Homo sapiens: one gene and its partner. The protein of the gene in region 1 purifies or fractionates together with the protein of each later gene. This does not show direct contact. Each region holds a gene or a part of one and is shown in the gene's direction. Other genes may lie near its edges.

What was found. The genes of interacting proteins can lie anywhere in the genome.
Region 2: the proteins of GALNT6 (region 1) and NDUFA12 purify together in Homo sapiens (affinity purification with mass spectrometry; 2 studies listed by BioGRID and IntAct, with this or other methods). This does not show direct contact.

Annotation. Positions count from the first base shown.
Region 1 is NC_000012.12:51,388,607-51,392,619, reverse strand, and holds the start of GALNT6 (polypeptide N-acetylgalactosaminyltransferase 6), read left to right. Parts: upstream 1-1,213; 5' UTR 1,214-1,333; intron 1,334-1,424; exon of another isoform or gene 1,425-1,538; intron 1,539-1,682; 5' UTR 1,683-1,770; intron 1,771-4,013. UniProt on the Homo sapiens protein: Catalyzes the initial reaction in O-linked oligosaccharide biosynthesis, the transfer of an N-acetyl-D-galactosamine residue to a serine or threonine residue on the protein receptor. May participate in synthesis of oncofetal fibronectin.
Region 2 is NC_000012.12:94,976,198-94,979,697, reverse strand, and holds part of NDUFA12 (NADH dehydrogenase [ubiquinone] 1 alpha subcomplex subunit 12), read left to right. Parts: intron 1-3,500. UniProt on the Homo sapiens protein: Accessory subunit of the mitochondrial membrane respiratory chain NADH dehydrogenase (Complex I), that is believed not to be involved in catalysis. Complex I functions in the transfer of electrons from NADH to the respiratory chain.

The DNA of each region.
Region 1 (4,013 bases):
GGCCCATTTCTTTTCTTTTCTTTTCTTTTTTTCTTTTTTTTTTTTTTTGATACGGAATCTCGCTCTGTCGCCAGGCTGGAGTGCAGTGGCGTGATCTCGGCTCACTGCAACCTCCCCCTCCCGAGTTCAAGCGATTCTCCGGCCTCAGCCTCCCGAGTAGCTGGGATTACAGACGCCCGCCACTACGCCCAGCTAATTTCTTGTATTTTTAGTAGAGACGGGGTTTCACCATGTTGGCCAGGCTGGTCTCGAATTCCTAACCTTGTGATCCGCCCGCCTCGGCCTCCCAAAGTACTGGGATTACAGGCATGAACCACCGCGCCCGGCCAAAATTTCTAATAAGTTCTCAGGTGATTCTGACTGGCGCTGCTGGTGGGGGATCCCACTTTGAGAAACACCCTCTGCTGTGTGAGCAGCTGCCTCCCCGGTACATTCGGAATAATCATAGTAGGTTTAAAGTTTGCTGGGGCTGGGATTCACCTGATACCTGGCACTTGGAGCCCTTGACACAGTTCATGGCACACGGAATACGAGCTCTTGTTGGATGGAGCACAAATGAGAAGCAAACCTGGGGCAGGACCCCGGGGCCCATGGCCGCCCCGCCGCGTTTCCCCCTCCGGGGCAGGCCTCCGGGCTCCGAGCGCTCCAGGCTGGCGCGCAGCACATTCCGGTTCCATGCACCCGCCGCCCGCGGCTCTGCTAATGCCTGTCCTCTTTGGGGTGACTAGGACCCTCCAATCTTTTTCCGCGCTGAAAGCCTGGCCGCAAAGACCGCACCCCCGGGGCGGGCTGAGACGCAGAGAAGCCGGGGCGCCCCTCTGCCGGTCCGCCGGGAGTTCCCGGGCCCGCAGCAGGCTGAGGACACGGCGGGACCCGCTGCACCTGGCCAGGGAGGGGCGGGGCGGGCGCGTTAGTGCAGCTGGGGGAGGTCCCGCCCCGGTCCCACCCTCCCGGCCGTCCGGTGGGGAAACCCGGGAGCCACCCCGCGGCGCGGCTGCGGCTTTGCCTCGGCGCGACAGGTAAGCGGCAGAAGGAGCCCGCGACCCTCTCCCCGGGAGGGCCCCCCTGAGCTCCCCGACTGCTCGGACTTCCCTTCGGCGGATCTCGCTTCTGCCGAGTCCTCGCTCTCACCTCCTCCTCCGCCAGCCTTCGCCTCTTCCTCTTCCTCCTCACTACCCCCGACAGTAAAATGAAGGGGCTGGGCCAGGCTGGTCCCTCCTGCCTTCGCTCTCTGCTGGTCGCGGTGGCCTGTAGCTCCTCCCTCGGTAGGACCCCCCTCCACCTTGGCGCTTACGAGATGAATGAGGAGCCCAGACCTCTGGAACTTGGAGGGGTGAGAGGGGGACAAGCCAGAGCCAGGGCTCCACACCCTCTTCCCCTCACCCACCCATGCCCTGCATTCCTTCTGTGCCCCGTCTCCCCAGATCGGGCCACCCCATGTGCTCTGGTACGGCAACTCTTGCAGAGAGGTTTCCTCCTGCCCTGCCACGTTGCGCCTGAGCAGAAGGGGACAGCAAGGAGAAGCCTCGCTGGTGGAGGTCGGTCTGAGCCCTGCTTGGTTGAATTCCCTCCAGAGCCTGGGGGCTTTTGGGGGTGGGAAGGGATCTGCCTCCTGCTGTGGGGAAATGGAATCTGCTGGGTGTTCATGACTGTGACTGTCACCGACTTCCCTATTTCCTCAGTTGTTCAGATTCCCAGGCTGACAAAAAGGAGAAACAGCTTTTACTTGCATCCAGGGCCAATCATCGCAGACCCAGACGTCTGCAGAGGGTAGGATGGGGCTCTTCTGTGTATGGGGGTGGAGGGTGGTCAGTTTGCCCACAAAGCTTACAGCAGACCCCTTCTAGCAGCCGACAACCCATTGCAGCACTCTCAGAAAGGATGTTAACTCTGTGCTCTGAGCTCGCCCCCAGGCCCACACACACAATTTACAGGCACTGGGTGAGGTTCATAGTTCTGGACACACCAAAGAGCCTCGAGGACTTTTGCGCCTTCTACCAGAGATGTGTGTGCACCACACAGGCCCTATTCTCCGCTCCAGACAGATGAGCTGTCTCCCTTCCCATCAAAGGAAAGGTTAAGAAGGATGAGACAGGGAAATTCATGTGATGATGAAAACCAGGTCAGGTGAGGGGTTTGAAATATGCTTTGGTTCCGGCCACATGTGGTGGCTCATGCCTGTAATCCCAGCACTTTGGGAGGCTGAGGCTGGTGCATCACCTGAGATCAGGAGTTCGAGACCAGCCTGGCCAACATGGCAAAACCCCATCTCCACAAAAAATACAAAAAGTTAGCCGGGCATGGTGGCAGGCGCCTGTAATTCCAGCTACTTGGGAGGCTGAGGCAGGAGAATTGTTTGAACCTGGGAAGCAGAGGTTGCAGTGAGCTGAGATCGCACCATTGCATTCCAGCCTGGGCAATAAGAGCAAAACTCTGTCTCAAAAAAAAAAAAAAAAAAAAAAAGAAAGAAAGAAAGAAAGAAATATGCTTTGATTCCAATTGCCTAGCAGGAGCCAGTAGCATTGCAGGCATTTCCCTAGCTCCAGTTCCTTAATGGTGCCATGCACTTTAGGAACCCAGAGGTAATCAGAGAAAGTTGCTTCCAGGGGCACCAGGGCAGAGAACAGGACAAGACCCTCAAAAGAAAGAGGGAAGTGTGCAGGAGACTGGGCTGCTCAAGATGACCTCACCTCAGTAATGCTGCCCACAGTCCTACAGTGGGTGGAACAGCTGACTCCTACCTGTAGCAGCATGGAAGAACTCAGGGCAGAGAAGGGGAGGCCCTGATGTGTGTCAGGTGCCCTGTGAGGTCAGAAACATATTTGCCCAAGTTCAGCTGGAAGAAGTGGGGACAGGAAATATGAGCATGAACTTAGTCCATGCAACCATTGCCTCGAACAGACCTCAGGACCAGGAGGGGCAGCTAACCCTAGGGCTGAGGGCCTCTCAGTGCAGGGAGGCAGTGAGTATCATGAAGGCAGGCAGCTGACTCAGCCCTGTCACTAACTTCGATATATAATCTTAGCCAAAACACATAAACACTCCCTGGGTGGGGAGCAAATGAGAAGGTGTATATGAAGTGTTTTGGCAAAGCTCCAAGCACCAGTCAAATGCAAGACAATGTGATGTCATAGTTAAGAGAGTGGGCTTTGGAGATACATAGGCCTGAATGCAAATTCTGCCTCTGCCACATTTCTAGCTGTGTGACCTTGGTCAAGTTACTTGACCTCCCTGTGCTTCAGTTTCCTTCTGTGTAAAACAGAGAAGATAACTGTAACTTGATTTGATATGGTAAGCAGTAATATTTAAAATGGTGATGGTATTCTTCTTAACATTTTCTGGCTCCCACGGATGTGTTCCGACATCTCAGCCCTGGAAGGGATGCTGAAGACCAGGTTGGGTGTGTCCATGCCGTAGCTTGGGTGAACTCAGCTCTTTACACAGTCCTCTGCCCCTTTCTGGGAAAGCCCAAATGTTCATTCTCATTTGATAGGAACGAGAGTGAGGATTTGAATAAGCAGGAGGTTAAGTGCAGGGCAGTGCCTGTCTCTGTGTCGAGCTCAATGTTGTAATTGTGCTGTGTAAAAGGCCTGTGTGGTGAACAAGGGTGAGCTCACTCCAGGGAGGAGAAGGACTGTTAGAAGACTTTTGTGGCACCTGACAGCCCTGTGGGGTCAGCTTATTCTCTCGTACCCTGAACAACTTGGTCCTAAGGCCTAGGTAGAGATTTGAAGGAAGAAAGCAACCCAGTCCTCAACTCTGCACGTAATAGAGAATGAAGAACAGACTAGCAAAATAGCATTGCCATACATCTCAAGGCAGAGAGATGCGACAGGGATTGGAAGGCCAGGTAGATTGGTCAGGAAGAACATTCTGGAGACAGAAGTTTGGGGACCAAGACTCAAGGATTGGGAAGGAGAAGGAAATAGGATCTAGGTGGTCTACCGTCTAGGCCTGTTGGTTCTCCCTTCTCCATGATAGTTAGTGGGGAAATCCCACGTAAGGAAAGCACG
Region 2 (3,500 bases), about 44 Mb from region 1:
CACCCAGCTAATTTTTGTATTTTTTTTTTTATAGGGGTGGGGTTTCTCCATGTTAGCCAGGCTGGTCTCAAACTCCTGGCCTCATGTGATCCGCCTGCCTCAGCCTTCCAAAGTGCTGGGATTACAGGTGTAAGCCACCTCACCCCGTCCCTTTTTAATCCTTTCTGTGTAGTTGTGTTCATAACCATACTCCATTTTACTTGCTTTTTTCCATCAATATTATAAGCAATTTTTCATGTTATTAAAACAATCCTTATAATCACCATTAAAAGATTTTTTCTGATTATAAGAATATACAATTGCTATAGAAAATTTGGAAATCTGGAGAATTATTAATATGAGGTAGAAACAATTCTTTGGCCCAGAAGCAATACTGTTAATATTTTATTCACTGATTCAACAACTATTTGAGGGTCTGCTTTTGGGTAGAGAAAGAATGTTTTGGGGGTGTTTGTTTTAGAGGTGGGGTCTTGCTCTGTTGCCGAGGATGGAGTACAGGAGCTATTCACAGGTGCAATCATAGCACACTACAGCCTTGAACTCCTGGGCTCAAGCATCCCCCCTGCCTCAGCCTCCCATGTAGCTGGGACTCCACAGAGGAATGTTTTTTAAAGACCACAGTGTGAAAAACTGATTGTAGTTTATTGGTCACACCTTCTTTAGAAGAAAGCTTATTATTATAAATAACATATACCTACACATTTCTCATATAATGTATACAACATTTTCTGACTTGCTTCTCCCTCCCCTCACTTAATATGTCACAGACATTTTTCCTGTCTCACTAAATACTGTGTCAGTTCGAGTGTTTTAGTTTCTGTGGGGCTTTTGTATTTAGAAAGGATTGTTGGGCAATTTGGATTTAAAATTAATATACTATTTATTATAGTTGCAAATTTAAAAACCTAATTGTTTTTCATTCTTGAGGTTCAATTTATAAATAGGATAAAAAGATTAGTAAATTGAATTACTTTTTGCATAAAAATAAGGAACAATCATTTTCTCTTGTTCTTTGATGAATGTTCGGTAAACTCTAATGGAAAGGATTACATTGTCCTAAACAGTAATACCCATTTGCAAATTTAGTTAATACATCTCTTTAAGCAGTTTAGTCACATTTATAAATTGAACATATTTGATATTTGAGTTTTTTCAATTCTTCAAATCCCCAGTGCATAGGCAGATTAACCTATCAAGCAAAATGTTCCTAAGCACTTAAATGACTCTTGTTTACTCAAGCCCAAAACTTCAGTGTCATCCCCCAGTCTAATTCTCTAATGTCCAGTCTGTTAGCAAGTTCATCCTGCTTTCGTTTCTCCATATATCCCACATCTCATCACTGCCTCTATGACTGTTACCCTAGTCCAAGGCACAATTATCTCTTGCCTGGACATCTACAGTCACCTCCCAACTGGTTTGATAACATTCTTGCAGTGCACTAGCGTTCCCAACATGCTAAGTGATGAGAGTGCATATTTTTAAATGTAAATCAGACACATCAAGTCTCTGCTCAGAATGACCCAGTGGCTTCCCATCACAGTGAGAGTAAAAACCCCAACTCCTTCCATGCTCTGCGAGGCGTTATGTGATCACAGTCTGCATGCACTGTCCTAGTCACAGCCCTGTTGACTCTGACTTGGCCACATTGGCCTTCTTGCTTTTCCTTGAACAGTGAACATACTCCCAACTCAGTCTCTGCACTAGCTGTTTCCCCAGATTTGGCATGGCTCACACACCTTCACTTTATTCAAGTGCCCATCTGGTGGCTCTTCAGGTGGTCTAGTCTATAAGAGCCCTGTTCCCTCTCATACTCCATACTCTTCCCCTGCTCTGGTTTTTTCCTTGATGGCACTTAACTACCTCTGCTTAACATTTTTTTTATATTATTTAATTTATTGTATGTTTCCCCAAATACCATGTTGGAACAGTGCCTACCACATAGTATTTCTGCAATAGATTTTTGTTGAATGAATGGATGTACATATACATTTTACTTGAAACAAACATTATTTTTTGGGTATGATAATCAGTTTTCTTCACTTTAGCTGATCCAAAAATGGCATCTTCTGCTACTCCTTTATAGCTTTCTAATGAATTTGAAACTAGATTTACCTCTGAATTACATTGCAATTTCAACCTGTCCTTTTTAGTACTTTGACCCACTGAATCATTTGTTACAGTTTTGTGGGGTTTTTGGGGCAGGGGCGGAGGGGTGTTTTTTTTTTTTGACACAAGGTCTTGCTCTGTCACCTAGGCCAAGTGTAGTGCCGTGATCATAACTCACTGCAACCTCAAAATCCTGGGCTCAAGCTATCCTTCTGCCTCAGCTTCCTGAGTAGCTGGGAGTATAGGTGCATGCCACCACACCCAGCTAATGTTTTTGTTTTTGAGAGAGAAGGTGTCAAACTCCTGGCCTCAAGTGATCCTCCAACCTTGGCCTCCCAAAGCACTGGGATTATATGTGACAGCCACTGTGCCTAGCCTGTTACAGTCTTCTAAAATATTATTTCTCTAAATAAATTGCTAGCTGTCAATGGCAGATAATATTTTCTTCAAAGTAAGTCCTTCCTAATGTTTATTTTCTGCTCCAGAAAAATCAGAATATTAGGAGACTGTGTTCTAAGAAACTACAAACTGCATTAATTGGGTAGTTTCTCTTATGTTACAGAATGTTACTTTTCTTTATACCCTTTCTCTGTTAAAATGTGTTCATTATAAGCAGAAGACAAGATTGTTTTGATTTTTAAAACTCAGCTTTTATTTAACACATTTCACTGAGTATTCATTGCTTCATTTAATATTGATTCTAACATTTTACAAAGATGCCTTGTTGGAAAATTCCATATGTGGAATGTGGAAATAAACTATGTATTACTCTTGGTGAATGAGGAACTGCTCAGCATGTTCATTATAGAAAATTCAAAAAATAACAAAAGAAATAAGAATAGCCTGTTATCCCACCACTTGTAGAAACCACTGCTATTAATATTTTGATACACATTTGACCTTCAGTATCTGTGGGTTCTGCATCCATGGATTAAACCAACATTAGATGGAAATTATATCAGAAAAAAGTTCACAAAGTTCCAAAAAGCAAAACTTGGATTTGCTGTGTGCCGAGTATTATGTTGAATCCACATGAATGAAGTCATATGCAGACATCATATTAGGCATTATAAGTAACCTGGAGATGATTTAAAGTATACAGGAGGTTGTGCATAAATTATATGCAAATGCTACATTTGCATATCCACAAATGATCATTTGTGGATTTTGGCATCCACAGGGTGTCCTGGAATCAATCCCCCATAGACACTAGGGACAACTGTTTATTCTTATCTCCTCGATTTCTATGCATATATATTCTTTTGTTTTTGTTATTAATGTAATTGAGCTTTTTGAAGAAGTAGCCTGGGTTTGCAAGTTATTTTAACTTTTGGCAGCCTGGTTTTCTCACTTACTATATTTGGATAATAATATTTATCACGAGTTGTTATAAG